Homo sapiens: one gene and its partner. The gene in region 2 interacts genetically with the main gene of each other region. Each region holds a gene or a part of one and is shown on either strand. Other genes may lie near its edges.

The links.
Region 1: changes in TMEM165 (region 2) and ATP2C1 are lethal when combined (synthetic lethality), as found in Homo sapiens cells (one study listed by BioGRID).

What each region holds. Positions count from the first base shown.
Region 1 is NC_000003.12:130,890,194-130,897,585, reverse strand, and holds the start of ATP2C1 (calcium-transporting ATPase type 2C member 1), read right to left. Parts: upstream 3,503-7,392; 5' UTR 3,249-3,502; intron 3,037-3,248; exon of another isoform or gene 2,997-3,036; 5' UTR 2,817-2,996; coding exon 2,811-2,816; intron 1-2,810. UniProt on the Homo sapiens protein: ATP-driven pump that supplies the Golgi apparatus with Ca(2+) and Mn(2+) ions, both essential cofactors for processing and trafficking of newly synthesized proteins in the secretory pathway.
Region 2 is NC_000004.12:55,412,943-55,420,946, reverse strand, and holds part of TMEM165 (putative divalent cation/proton antiporter TMEM165 precursor), read right to left. Parts: intron 3,876-8,004; coding exon 3,700-3,875; intron 3,145-3,699; coding exon 2,962-3,144; intron 1-2,961. UniProt on the Homo sapiens protein: Putative divalent cation:proton antiporter that exchanges calcium or manganese ions for protons across the Golgi membrane.

The sequences.
Region 1 (7,392 bases), on a different chromosome or scaffold from region 2:
GGAAACACTATCAATTCTACACTGTTCACACCCACAAATGTAACTACCTGCATACCTACTGGAGGATACTCTTACTAGGGAACAGCAGCATCACTCAATTCATCCAAGTTAACTGTATGTCAAACATTGCTCTGGCGGCTTCATTTATTACTCACATCAACTTTGCAAGAGGGCATTATCTCATTTACAGATGAGATAACTTAGAGGCTGAGAAAGCTTAGAAGCCTAGTAACTTGTCAGATTTTTCAGGAGAGGAAAACATTACTTGTCGGGCTTCAAATCCAAACCTGTCTCTTTCTGTACTGGACCCTGGCTTCTTGGTAGAGCCCTAACTTTTTCTGTAGGCTTAAAAGCACTAATGCCATAGAAAATTCCTTACCTAACTCCACTTATCCCTCAACTAACAATGACAACTTCATTTTGAGCATTTGGCTACTACTGTTCCCCCTTCCAACATTTAACTGTCATGACAATATTAATGCCAGGTGGCCTATTAGTATGTATCAAACATTCAGCTAGGCAATTTATAATTAACATTTACCGAGCACTTACTATGTGCCAGATACTGTTTGAATGTTTACAACAACCTCATAAGGTAGGTTCTATCATTATCTTTATTTTATGAAGAAACGGAAGCACAGAAAACTTTAATATGCACAAAGCCAAATGGTAAGCGACGAATCCAGCATTCAAATCAGTCTGCATGGTTCCACCACAACTCAAGCTCTTAAACGTTATCATTCCTACCTCACAAGAGAATTTATACAGGGTTTCTCATTTAATCCTCTCAATTCTGTGAGTTAAAGATTATCAATCCCAATTTATAGATGAAGAAATACAGGCTCAGAAAGGTGACGTAATTTACTTAAAATCACACAGCTTTAAGTGGTTCAAGACAAGTTAGTCAAGACTTGAATCCATTTTTGTTTCACACCTCCAAATTGTTAATACTACACTATATCAAAGAAGGATGAAAACTACAAAAAGGCAAGTGAACAATAAAAAGGCACAGGTATCAATCTATGTAGTTTAATATGGTCAGTCACTTTTGAAAATTTCTAGGCTATATACAGGCTCTTCTTCAAACTGTTTATATATAAAAAAAAATGTGACGATAGGGAGAAACTGACAAAAATGGTCTCTTGATGGTCAAGAATAACGGGACAGAAAACCCCACACGTTTTTAAGAACTGTATAATCTTTTACTATGAAACCACAAAATTCATATTTGGCCACAAAATACAGAGACAGACACAAGTAGGCACCATTCTCCTATCTCACAACCACCCCCTCCCACCTCAGTAGATAATGAGAATCGGCTTTATTACTCATGCTCTTCCTCCTGAGAGATCAAGAAACAAAAGCAACATGAAAGAATCCACCTACTTTAGGCTACCCTCTTAAATCTGGTACCATTCTGAAAACAAGCTCATAAACATACATTAAATGTTAGAAGTTATTTAAGATGTTTCTACCAAGAAACAAGTATATGAATGCATTTAACATTCTTTGTCTCATGTGCAGAATGGATTTGCCTTTCTTAAATCAATAAACTTAAAAGAGAGGAAAAAGGCTCAGAAAAGTGACTTTCCTTATCACCAAAAACATCACTGCTTTCAAATGTTTCTCAAGACCCAATTAGACAGTATAACTCCTCTGCAGTTATACACTTTAGTATTTCAGAAAATGTCTTCCGCCAATTATCCATCCAGAGTAAAATTTGTCAATATAATCATGCCTCTCATCATATTCCCTACATAGCCCAGAGGTCTCAGAGAGCAAAACACATTACTGCATCTATAAGAAACACCCATTTCAAAATTACTAGTCCTAGTCAGACAATCAAGCTTACATTCTCAACAATGGAAAAACAAATTAGAAGCAGCCAGCAAGACTGCAGCTCCTTTATACCAGACACATATTTTTTAAAACAAATTATACCAGAGGAAAAAACTGTCATTTGTTAAGTATCTTTTATAGTATTTTGCAGCCCGGTTAAAGGCAGAAGAAAAAAAAATGATCACGCACAAGTCAGAAGTCAGTCCAAAGAATAAGTGTTGTTTCAGGAGGGGGAAAAAAAATCACTTATTCACAGTTGTTCAACAATTTTAAAAATAATCAGTGCTGTGTAGGAAAAGCATTAAATATTTTAACGAGGCCAAAGGGATCATGTAACATGTGAATGACGATCTAATGTGTCCAAAGTGTACAGTGAACAAACAGGTTCCGCTGTCAGCCTCCTAAATGATGTTTTGAAATAGGGTGGAACTTTAAGAAAAGCACTCATCTCATAACATTTCATTAAATTCACTGGGTTTTTTTTGTGAATTGAAAAATAATGAGTTTTTTCCCCAATGCTAGACATAATAAAACATGGCTTGCTTTCTTATAAATGAATCCTGCCACACACCACATCGAGGCTTGAAACGCCAATATACAGAGATGCAGCCCCATCCCCTTGTCCCCCATTTCCACTTCCCCTCGAGTAATTCCTTTCAAATAGCTATTTAAACATGCACAGACGCTATCTGAAATGAAAACTTCCCTCTCATTCCCTAAGCTGAAGAGAGCAGGAATTCCTCAAGAAAGCTGAATCAAGCTCAGTCACCCACAGAACCTCAATCTCTCAAATGCCCCATGTTACCAAAATAAAAGCTGGATACCCTAAGTAAGCAAATCCTTGGACACTTCACATACACAGTAAATAAATAAGCTCACGAAAATAAAAAGGTGGAAAAACAAAGACAACTTAAAAGCAAACCACCACACCCTCAACTCCGCGTTGCAACCGGTCGGCCAGGGGCCTTTACCTTCATTTTCCATCGAAACTGCACTCGGGTTGATGGCTACAAAGTCTTTAGTGTCAGCCACGGCCACACTGGGAATAGAGAGGAGAGGAGGAGGACAAGGAAGAGAAGCCCCCGGAATCCCAGGCTGTCACCCCCGCTCCCGGCCACGCGTCCCACGGCTGCTCCCACCACCCCTAGCAGCAGCATCTGCAAGAGAAACCAGGAGAAGCGGCGCTGACGAGAGGCTGAGGAAGGAGTTCCCCGCCCAGCCACTATCTCGGGAGCCCCCCTCCCCAAGATCCCGCACCCGCCCCGTCGTGTGCCCGCAACGTCCCCAGCTCACGCCAGCGGGGCGGCGCCCTAGAGATGCCCCCCCATCCAGGGGATACCCGAACCTCCCCTTCCTTCAGAACCTGGAAGTTTCTAGAAATGGGGGCAGGAGGTAATACTGGTACCCACCCAAAGCCCCGGACAGCCCTCCTCCAGGCTGCGGGGTCTCAGCCGCGGGGCTCGCGGGGGCGCCCCGCGCGCCTCGGGAGAAGAGGAGCTGCTCGCGGGGCAGCGGTGCGAGGCGGGAGCCTGCTCCCGGCGTGAGAAGAAGCGAGCGGGAGGGAGGAAGGGAGGGAGAGAGGGCGGGCGGGGAGGGGAGAGAAGAGGAGGTGAGGGGACCCGTCACGGTCCGCCGGGCCGGCTCCGCGAGGCCGTGCTGGTCTGCTCCCGCCTCCGACTCCTGCGCTCCGCCCCTCCCCGCCGCCGGCCGCCCAGTCGCGCCCCGCACTCCTGGGCCAGCCGCGAACCCAGCTTTGTCACTATTACTTCCGCTGAGAGAGGTGCGCGCAGGCGCATTCGTGTTCACGGGCTGGGAAGGCGGAAGTGAAGTGAAGGCCGAGACTTCGGCCCGGAATGGACAATGTTTGGGTTTGGATCCGTCCGGTAGGAGGTCGCTCGGGGTTGGTGGCCCGCCTTGTTCTTGCTGGCGCCTCCCTTACCCCAGGGACGGTGTCCGCCCGTTTATATGCACCCCCTGAACGCGAGGGTCGGAGATTCGCCCACGCCCCGTGTCGGCCACGCATTCCCGTGGGGCGGCCGCGGGGTCGGCCCAAGCTGAGAGTCATGGCCGCTGTCCCCGAGGCGTTTAAGCGCTCTCTACAAAGTCTGTAGGGGAAGCTGCTCCCGTCGGGGTGGCAGTCACAATCTCAGCAGGCAACGTTGAGGCCCACGGAAGGAAGGGGCGAGGTGTCCATGCTCCTGCCAGGGACTGGAGCACCGTGAGCAGCCTCCCGAGTCTCGCACTCTCACTTGCAAAACCCTGCACTGACTGCTTGGTTCTTGGGGGAGCCGGTAATCGCGGGGCGACTTCCCAAAATTCTTTAAGGGGTGTGCTTAGTTACCATGTGTAATGAGAGAGCAAGGTTCAGCCTCAGAGAGCTCCAGGGAGAGCTAATCTTTTTCATTCGTTTGTGGTATATGGAACTGGGGAGAGGCTGGAACAGCAATTAGAAACCAGTCGTACAGCTGTCGAAGCCAATGAACGAGCACTTCTTTTAGCAGCTGTACCTTTGTCCAGTGTCAATGCCTTTTCACACGTAAACATTTCACTTGCTCGGCATCTTACCCAGACCCCTAATAAGTGCTTTTTAATGAACGATTGGTTTTAATAAACCGTGGTGAGCCAGACATATAATGTTGAACAGAAGTCCTCTCACACCCATAACCACTAGAGGGCAGGGCTTCACCTACTGAGTTGGTGATCATCCTACAGAGAACTCAAAAGAAAATTTCCGTATATGCTAGATGTGTTTTTCTCCATCAACACTTAGACACTTTACAAATTTGCTTTTTATCTCAGGTCCTGTAACATATCGCAGTGTGCTCTCTAACCACACGTTCAACATCAGAATTAACGGACGGGGTTGCCTGTGTTTCTATATTTGTTCCCAAGTAAGTGGTACTAGACTAGGATTGAAAATTCTGGACAGCTTTCTAGATTTACCTTTCTTTTAAGAAATATTGAACTTTTATTCAGCGAGGTCACTTTTAAAGATGAACCCATAAAAATCACTATCAAGTAGATTTCTAGTCTTAACGAGTTAACTATGATCCACCTCTGGCATGCATGGTCAGTGATTTTTGTCTGCACAATGACGGAGCCAAATTAACGGACGGGGTTGCCTGTGCTTCTATATTTGTTCCCAAGTAAGTGGTACTAGACTAGGATCGAAAATTCTGGACGGTTTTTAGATTTACCTTTCTTTTAAGAAATATTGAACTTTTATTCAGCGAGGTCACTTTTAAAGATGAACCCATAAAAATATCAAGTAGATTTCTAGTCTTAGGAGTTACTATTTATGATCCACCTCTGGCATGCATGGTCAGTGATTTTTGTCTACACAATGACATAGCCTGTGATTTGTACAATGATTGTGATCTCTCGTAATCAATTTGTAACAGTTATTACTGTACATATTCGACCTTGAAACAGCATTATATTAAAAACAAAAGCACCTAAGGTAGGAAATTACACAATATAAATACTTTGATATTAACATATGCATTTACAAAATAGAGGGTAACTGTACAGAATTTGGTATTGGGTCACTTTAGCTGAAACATTTTTCTAAAGCAACTTTTCAGAACTATCTGTTGTATTAATATACTGCAATACTCTAGCATTAACACTGAATCTATAACTCCTCCAAAAGATTTATAGCTCCATGGTTTATTCCTAAAATGACTTAAACTGAAATTTTACTTTTGGTCCCCTAAATTATGAAAATCATTGTTCCTATTACTAAGCCAAAAAAGAAACTGGTAAGATCAAGATCAACTTTACCAAGAAGAATTGACCAATTAGTCATTTTATATAAAAAACTTAAGCATCTGGAAATTTTGGTGTCTGAGGGGGTTCTGGAACCGATCCCCTGTGGACAATGAGGGATGACTATATACATATATATGTCATACACACACATATGTATATGTATAGACAAACATATACACATATATATGTATATTCATACACCCACATATACATACACACTAGCCTTCTTTCAAAAGATTTTTGTAAGAATCTCATAAAGTAAGTGAACACAGGTTGCAAATTATAAGCACTATAGAAGTATAAGATTATTATAGAGAGAATCAAGGAAATCCCTGGAGTGTTAGCTAGCTACAATGGGATTGATGGCAATGAAACATATTATTTCCAAGTTTCAGCTTATTGCTTCCATAGAAATCAAAGCTCTAAAAATTCTTTCTACTCTCCTTTTGTCCTGAATATTTAACCTACAAAATTAAATGCATCTGATGCAAAAAGTGGTCACGTGCAAGAAAGGGAAATTTGTCAGGCTTTTCCGCTTGGGGGAAATATTACAAATGGGAAAGATTGAAGAAGAATGGTCATGACATTCTAATTTTCTTTATACTGTGCTTTATTCCACAAAGGGTGTGCGGTATCTTGTTTTTAATATCAAATTTGATAGCTGCATTTTTATAAACCTGGATGGTACAAGAATATGTGGTTCTTTAGGGATTTAAAAATTAAAACTTGGAAAAAATTATTTTAAAATCTTTCCTCAATTAATTAATGTCTTCTTTTAAAGGCTGTTTTAATGTTGTTTAAAGTACCAGAGGTTAATAGTTAAGAAATTTCACCTAGCTGCTAGAAAAGAAATTGTAATTTTATTTTAAGTTGAACATTTTATTTATTTACTTACTAACTTAAGAGACAGAGTCTCTGTCGCTGAGGCTGGAGTGCAATGATGCCATCATAGCACACTGCAGTCTTGAACTCCTAGGCTCAAGAGATCCTCTTGCCTCGGCCTACCAATGTGCTTGGGATTAGAGGCATGAACCACCATGCCTGGCAAAGTTGGACACGTTAAAAACATATAAAGATGCATCACTTTATTTTTATAAGCTAACCTACTCCAACAGAACAACAGAAGTATTTTTCTTCTTATAAGATAAAGGACATGCTAAATGTCAAGTTTAGAAAACTATAGTTTTATTGCCAAGAGTGTTGTACGAAATCAGTTCCTAACAAACATCTACCAGAATTGCTATAAATCTGCCTAGTTCCATGTTTTGGCAGTGCTGGAAGATTAAAAGTTGGAAGCAAGAATAAAAATTGAAGGACTCATATGAGCTACTTGTGTTTGGTTGGTTTTAATAGCACCCAGATCCAGATCCCCAAGTACTCTACAAATATTTTATCACTCACAAAATTCCATAGCCTCTTTCACACTTGCTAGCATTTTAAACATGAAATATTTGATGAAACTGAGATGAAATGAGAGAACTTATACTCTTAATTTTTATTGTTAAAGAAGTTTATTTCAAGTATGACATAGTCTCTCCATTCATTGGCTCAGATTCTGAGCCAGTGGTAATATTTGGGATCTTATATACTACCAGTCTTCTGGATTAGACATGAGTGTCGATGGGATGCATGTGAAAATAAGAAAGAGGTAAGAGCAAAGTGAGTGTGAGTCCCATGACCCAAGAGTACCATGACCAATGAACTTCATCATTTCCATGGAAAACAGACATACAATATTCCAAATTATATAAACTACAGGATTTGTTTTGAGATACAAAGGTA
Region 2 (8,004 bases):
GGATTAAACGCGTGAGCCACCACACCTGGCCCAAGTCTTAAAAAGAAAAAACAAAACGACAGGGATATATTATTTGCCAAATTTGACTCTGAATTTCTTCCTTCCCCCTCACCCTTTTTTGGCCTAGAACCAATTCAAGTCTCAAAGGACACTAGGATTATGTGAAATCCAATTTGGGAACATTAAATCATGTTGGAAGCAAAGATAAAACTGCATACTAAAATGGCCTGAACTAGACAACTGCATGGTTCATAAGAAAAATTACCAACAAAAATAGGAATACTAAGGGAACAGGAAAAGACACAACATTTCTGCCATTTAAGAGCTCATTAAATATCCCCGCAGGGCAGTTAGTATGGAAGTGTGGCTAACACTGAATGTGCCATGTGGGGGACCATGCTAGATACCCTGCGTGTGTTATTTCATCTGCAAACCGATCCACAAAGCAGGTAATCCCCATTTTTGGATGAGAAAATGCAGGGAAGTGCAGTAATGTGATTTTACAGCAAGAGACTCAAAACCCAGTCAGCACGTGCCATACTGCTAGAATGGACCAGGGTGTCTCGTAGGTAGGGAGCCTCAAGCCTTTCACACGTCACTCTATGGCATAGAGTCTATGCCACAGAGTAGAGAGAAAAACGCAGTGATTCTGCTGTCATGATAACTCACCCTGGTAGAATCACTACCACCTCAACAAAATGGTTACTTACTATTGAGTCCCAACTCTGGCAATCTGAGAGCCAATAAAAGGCTAGAAATCAAGAAGAATATAGGGTACAGCCATTAAATAAATAAATAAAATAAATAAATAAATAAATATATATGTATATATATATATATTTTTTTTTCTTAAGATAGTGTCTCACTCTGTCACCTAGGCTGGAGAGCAGTGGCACCATCTCGGCTCACTGCAACCTCTGCCTCCCGGTTTCAAGTGATTCTCCTGCCTCAGCCTCTCTAGCAGCTAGGATTACAGGCACCCGCTACCACGCCCAGCTAATTAAAGTGATATTTTTAAAGAAAGTTTGTTTTATGAGAATCAAATGAAAATCAGAGTTCCATTTTTTTTCCCCAAAATACAGCATTTTTGAGGCTTCCCTGACAAAATAGCCTTTCCCATCTATCTTAGTCCTGGCCTTCAACTGTCTTGTATTTTAAACCACAGCCTATAATTAAAGAACTTGTTCTTTTATGATAGTTCCAAGGAATTAGAAACAATTTTACTCTTATAAAAAGAGAATCTGATATAAACACAGATAAGAAATAGTATCAGTTAAGATGAAAAAGAGGTTGAAAAGTGGCAGCAGTATTCCATTCCACAACCGTCTCCACATGAAATCTTAATAAATCTGTGTGAACAATGACAGGCGCCTCATATAAAACCTTGCTATTCCCATCAAAAGAAAAATTAAAAAATAAAAAACCAATGGGCATGTTTTAAATAAGTGGCATTGAACAACTGTGAAGAAGGCCACAGCCAGCCAGCTTACTCCCTCACACAAGTCACCCGATCTCTCTGGGGGTCAGGTTCTTCATCTGAAGAGTAAAAGCTACAAGATGAGCTGAGGTCTCTAGCTTCCCACTCCAGAACTTAGGATTCTTGGGCTAAGACTTTTTGAACAAAAAGTTCCTACACAGAAACAAACAAGTCACCTAGGCCAGAGCAGTGACTCTCGCCTATAATCCCAGAAGGATTATTTGCGAGGCTGAGGCAGGAAGTTTCAGGCCAGGGGTTCAAAACTGGCTGGACAACATGGTGAGACCCCACCCCTACCAAAAAGTAAATAAATAAATTACCCATAATAGCAGTACGCAACGATAGATAAGCACTGAAATAAAAATAATGTTTTTATTTCCTTAAGTCTTTTTTGTTCTTTTTATATATTATTTATTTAATTTTTTGAGATAGCATCTCACTCTGCTGCCCAGGCTGGAGTGCAGTGGTGCAATCTAGGCTCACTGCAACCTCTGCCTCCCCGGTTCAATCAATTCTCCTGCCTCAGTCTCCTGAGTAGCTAAGATTACAGGCATGAGCCACCTTGCCCGGCTAATTTTTGTATTTTTAGTAGTAGGGGTTTCTCCATGCTGGTCAGGCTGGTCTCAAACTCCTGACCTCAGGTGATCCGCCCACCTTGGCCTCCTAAAGTGCTGGGATTACAGGCGTGAGGGACGGCACCCGGCCTTCTTTTTATATTTTAAAAGTAAACCTCCTTTTAAAATTTTTCCATGTCACTGAAATGATGTTGAAGAGTGAATATTCTAAGAGCTACACAGAGATTTGTAAACAGCTGAACCAATTTTCTGCTGGATTATTAGGCTGTTTCTAAATTTTTACTAAGTTACAATAATTATAAGTAGTCTGTGCAACAGTCAATTTCTTTAGTGTAACACATGAACGAAAAGCTATACACTTTTTTTTTTTTTTCAGACTGGGTCTCCCTGTCACCAAGGCTGGAGTGCAGTGGCGCGAACACAGCTCACTGGAGCCTCAACCTCCCAGGCTCAAGCAATCCTCCCACCTCAACCCTCCTGAGTAGCTGGGACTACAGGTGCATACCACCAAGCCCGGCTAGCTACACATTTTTAAGGCTTTAGGTATTAAACACCAAAATGGCCTTCAATAATATTATACTGATTTATATTCTCAACAACTATAAAAAAGAAAGTTCTATGATAAGAAAACCAAGCTAAGATGACAAGTACCACGGCATCATTTTGGCAAAACCAAAGGGAAAAGGATGAGTAAAAAGAGCCCAACTGAGCTTGGTTACAAGAATTTCACCTGCAGGTAGCAGGAACTGGGAGAAGGCCAATTTTAGAGAGCAGCTGAATTATCAGATGTAAAACAGTCTTGCATATGAAGGAATGCTGTGGCCCACTTCAGTGTGTCCAGTGTTTTCTGGAACAAAGTAATAATAATTACGTTTCATTTTAAACAGTCTCCTCTCAAATATCACTCACCTCTCTAGCTGCCAATACAATTGTAGTTAGTTGAGAGCGATCACCCCATTCTGCTAAGAATGTTAATGTAAGAGCTTGAACAAAAATGGGTGAAATAAAATGCAACCACTTTTTCTGAGGTACTGTTATGCTTGTACCCGTTTCAACATCTCCCGGTCCATTTAAAAGTTTGGTTCGTTGAAACTAAAATAAATAATAAACAAATGAAAGTAAGCACAGGAAGCAAATCAAAATAGCACACAAATCACTTGACTTTTCTAAGTGTTTAAATTCTATGAAATATGCTCCAAAAAAACTACATTTATGTGACCCCCAAACCTCCCCTCTGAACCACTGGTCTCACACAGCAACAAATGCTATAGTCTCAATTCTTCCGTTTCTCCTCAGCTGAACAAACCAAACAGTATTTACTGCTCTGCTCACTTACTATCCTAGACACCACGGGAGAAACAGGTAAAATTATAAAATACAGTTCCTGCTTTTCAGGAGCTTATAATCAACCTAATTAAGGAAACTGATTACCTGTGTTCAGTATTCATCTGTCAGCTTCCTTTCTCTACTACATTCACACCAACCCCAAGTCAGATCACAGACAGGTATAAGAACAGAACAAAGCAAAAGAAGCTATTTTTGTGTAGCCCCGCATATCACACAGATGGGGCCACTGAGAAACCTCTGTAGAGTGTTTATTCCTAGTTGAGTGCCTTTTTGGTCCAGATCAACAGTGCCATGGCTTACTTCTTCATCTTTCTTCTTTAATTCAGCTTGAACTTCTTCCAGTTCCTCTTGACCCTCATCAGGGCTCATCTTTAAGCCTTCCCGAAGCATTCTAATGCCAAAAATGGCAAATAATACAGTTGAAACATAGTATGTATAGACCCTGGGGATGACTGTGGTGGCATAGCCAAACAAAACTGGAAAAAATACAACAGTATGTTTGTTAATCGAGTGTGTATCACGACCAAGGGAACAGTTAACTTCGGAAATAATAATTTATCACTGTTAAAAGAAAAATGGTTCACATTAGAAGCTAATCTAGTATGTAATAACCTCAAGTATTTCCAGATCTTTCTCTCCACCAATAATAAACCATTAGGTCTAGCCCAGGCCTAACACAGCTTACTCAGAAGCCAATGGTCCAGTTGAAGATGGCACATCTTCCTGAGAGATGTTAAGTAAGATATTGAACTCCTTTCCAGGCATGTTCAGTCAGAGGCTGGCTTGCCTTATGTTGTGCAAGGCACAGTACCTGGGGTAGAAGTTAGCTCTGAGGCCCTCTCAAGAGCTGAGATTTTATAACTGGGAAGCCATGCCACTTGCATAGTGGAATTTCTTCATCACAAATCTTTAAATCACAAACTTCTAGTGAAGAATCATGACAAAAGTCTCACATAGCAAGATTTAAACTCTGCTCCCTTGTAACTATTTAAAATAAGTACGTTTTATGAAAAAAATCTAAAAATTTCTTATTATATTAAAATAATGTTACAACAGGCTCAAACATTCAGTTCCACTCTTTCCCACTGATAAGGAAAGACATCTGTGTAAGTTATATAAAAAATGATGCTTGGAACTATATCAAGAACTCAAATCCTAATGGTGAAACACAAGTATATCAGTAATACTCATTCAGTAATTAAAACTTAAAAATTTGGCTGGGCAAAGTGGCATAATCCCAGCACTCTGGGAGGCCACGGTGGAAGGATTGCTTGAGCCTAGAAGTTCAAAACCAGCCTGGGAAACATAGTGACACCCTGTCTCATAAACAAACAAAAACAACTATGTAAGGAACAGAGGACACGACCATACATATAATAAATACAATTACTCTGGCCAGGCACGGTGGCTCATGCCTGTAATCCCAGCACTTTGGGAGACCGAGTCGGGCGGATTACTTGAGCCCAGGAGCTTGAGACCACTGGTCAACATGGCGAAATCCTGTCTCTACAAAAAAAATACAAAAATTAGCCTGACGGGGTGACACACGCCTTGGTCCCAGCCTACTTGAGGGGCTGAGATAGGAGGATCACTTGAGCCCAGGAGGTCAAAGCTGCAGTGAGCTGCGATCATGCCACTGCATCCCAGCTTGGGCAACAGAGTGAGATCCCATCTCAGAAAAAAAAAAAGAAAGAAAGAAAAATACAATTACTCTTTAATTCACCAGCTCTTTTTATAAAACGGGTGCAACACTTACAAATCTGCCTGTAAATGTATAACCTGTATGTAAATAATTCCCTACATTACAAAACTGAAAAGATCTTAAAATCATGGTTAGAAATGCAGCAAACCTATGTTTGTGTGCACATCTGTATTTAAATTATTGTGTGTGTATATATGTATGGATGTATATTTGTATATATGTATGTGTACACACAGGATACAAGCATATATTTTCTAGCTCTGTCCACTGAAAAAGACAAGAGGCAAAGACATCTCAGTAACAAGGAGCTCAGTAACCTTGCACCTAGATCTTGGGTTCTAATACCATTCTCCCCTAAAAAGCTCCTCAAAGCTCCGCCGAGAAATGGCCAGTTCCAGGACTGGGCAGAGCAGGTGCATGATGAACCTGTAATATCTTGTTGTACTAGAAAGTGAGGAGCAAAATCAAATGGGAGCATGCCACAAAGACACAGGACACAGTTTGGAGAGGCTCTCACTGGCCTAACATCGGATAATTTAAGCAGCAAAATAGTTAAATAATTAATTATAAACCATTGAAAAAAGGAATCCATAAGTTTGTACTGCTAGTAAAAAGACAAACAAATGGGAAAGGAAGGAGAGCTCTTGCTGGCAGTAGAATACCAAGGCTCACTGGTGAATATGCAAGAAGTATTAGAATTAAAAGCATCATTTTGCAAGCATCAATGAAAGATCTAATTATGCAAGAATCATCAATTGATGCAAAATCTTTGGAGAAATTTTGATGAGGAAGAGGGTATTTGTACTGTCTTTAAGTATATCCCTACAGATTAGATAGTAGTTGCAAGGGAAGACAACACAGAAAAGAAATATTGACTGGGTCACCAAAATTAATGTCACCAATGAGGAATAAATGGACACCATGTGCTTCCAGATGAGACATTCTTGGAGAGACAAAGTATCACCTATGCAGTTTTCTAGTCAGGAATGCCTACCTCAATCTAACCATCAGGAAACATCAGACAAACAAAAAATGGGGAACAGCCCATTCCTGGGGTGGAGGGAGGAGGGATACACTGTAATTCTCCCAAAAAGGTTGATGTCAGAAAACATTTTAAAAAAAGGCTATGGATATATTTCAGATTAAAAGACTAAAAAGATAATAAATAACTAAATGCAATATCTGACCTAGACCGAAGGGAAAAACACTGATATAAAGGACATTATTGAGGGGTCAGGGGCAAGGGGAGGGAGAGCATTAGGACCAATACCTAGTGCATGCAGGGCTTAAAACCTAGATGACGGGTTGATGAGTGCAACAAATCACCATGGCACATGTATACCTGTGTAACAAACCTGCACGTTCTGCACATGTATCCCAGAACATAAAGTATAAAAAAAAAGTGGTTAAATCTATAAAACTAAATAAAGCTATAAAAGAGAAGATGTAGAAATAAACACATATGATTTAACAGTTGAGGCAAAATAATATAAAGACTGTTAAACCCACTTAAATTACATAAAACTGATAACACAAGTGAAATATTTAAAAATTTCATGTCCTTTTTTTTTTTTTTGAGACGGAGTCTCACTCTGTCGCCCAGGCTGGAGTGCAGTGGCACAATCTCGGCTCACTACAAGCTCTGCCTCCCGGGTTGACGCCATTCTCCTGCCTCAGTCTCCCAAGTAGCTAGGACTACAGATGCCCGCCACCAAGCCTGGCTAGTTTTTTGGATTTTTTTAGTAGAGACGGGGTTTCACCGTGTTAGCCAGGATGGCCTCGATCTCCTGACCTCGTGATCCGCCTGCCTCAGCCTCCCAAAGTGCTGGGATCACAGGCGTGAGCCACCGCGCCCAGCCTATGTCCTTTCAAAAAACAAGAAAGGACATTAGGTCATCCAAAATTAAAATATGGATGACAGATTCAAGTACTGTATCAATACATAATATATATTAAATGTTGTGATTATATGTGTGCATTATATAGCTTATAAATAATGTATGTATATGTACACACTATAGACAGGTATGTAAACAACGTGTATATATACACATTTACAATTTTATTTAGATAAGAGTACAAATGCTAAAACAAATGGGATAAAATGTTAACAACAGGTGAATCTAGGCAAAAGTTATATAAGTGTTCTTCATACTATTTTATTTTTGCTGCTTTGTAAACTTAAAATTATTTCTATAAAATGTTTAAAAATTGTAAAATGATGGGCCAGGGGCCAGGCGTGGTAGCTCACGCCTGTAATCGCAGCACTTTGGGAGGCCAAGGCGGGCGATCATTTGAGGTCAGGAGTTTGAGACCAGCCTGGCCAACATGGTAAAACTCTATCTCTACCAAAACATACAATAAGTATCCAGGCGTGATGGCATGTGCCTGTAGTCTCAGCTACTTGGGAGGCTGAGGCAGGAAAATCGCCTGAGCCTGGGAGATGGAGGTTTAAGTGAGTCGGGATCATGCCACTGCACTCCGGCCTGGGTGACAGAGCAAGAGTCTGTCTCAAAATAAATAAAAAGATAAATAAATAAAAATTTAAAAAATAAATACAAGGTAAAAGGATGGGCAGGCACACATACCTATAATATCAGTACACTGGGAGGCTAAGGTGGAAAGATAGCTTGAGCCCAGGAGTTCAAGATCAGCCTGGGCAACACAACCAGACCCTGTCTCTACAAAAAACAAAAAATTTAGCTGGGCATGGTGGCATGAGCCTATGGTCCCAGCTACTCAGGAGGCTGAGGTGGAAGGATCACTTGAGCCCAGGAGTTCCAGGTCTCAGTGAGCTATGATCATGCCACTGCACTCCAGCCTGAGTGATAGAGCAAGACTCAGTCTCTAAAAAAAAATAAATAAATAAATAAATAAAAAATAGCCCTATCATCTCATTAAGA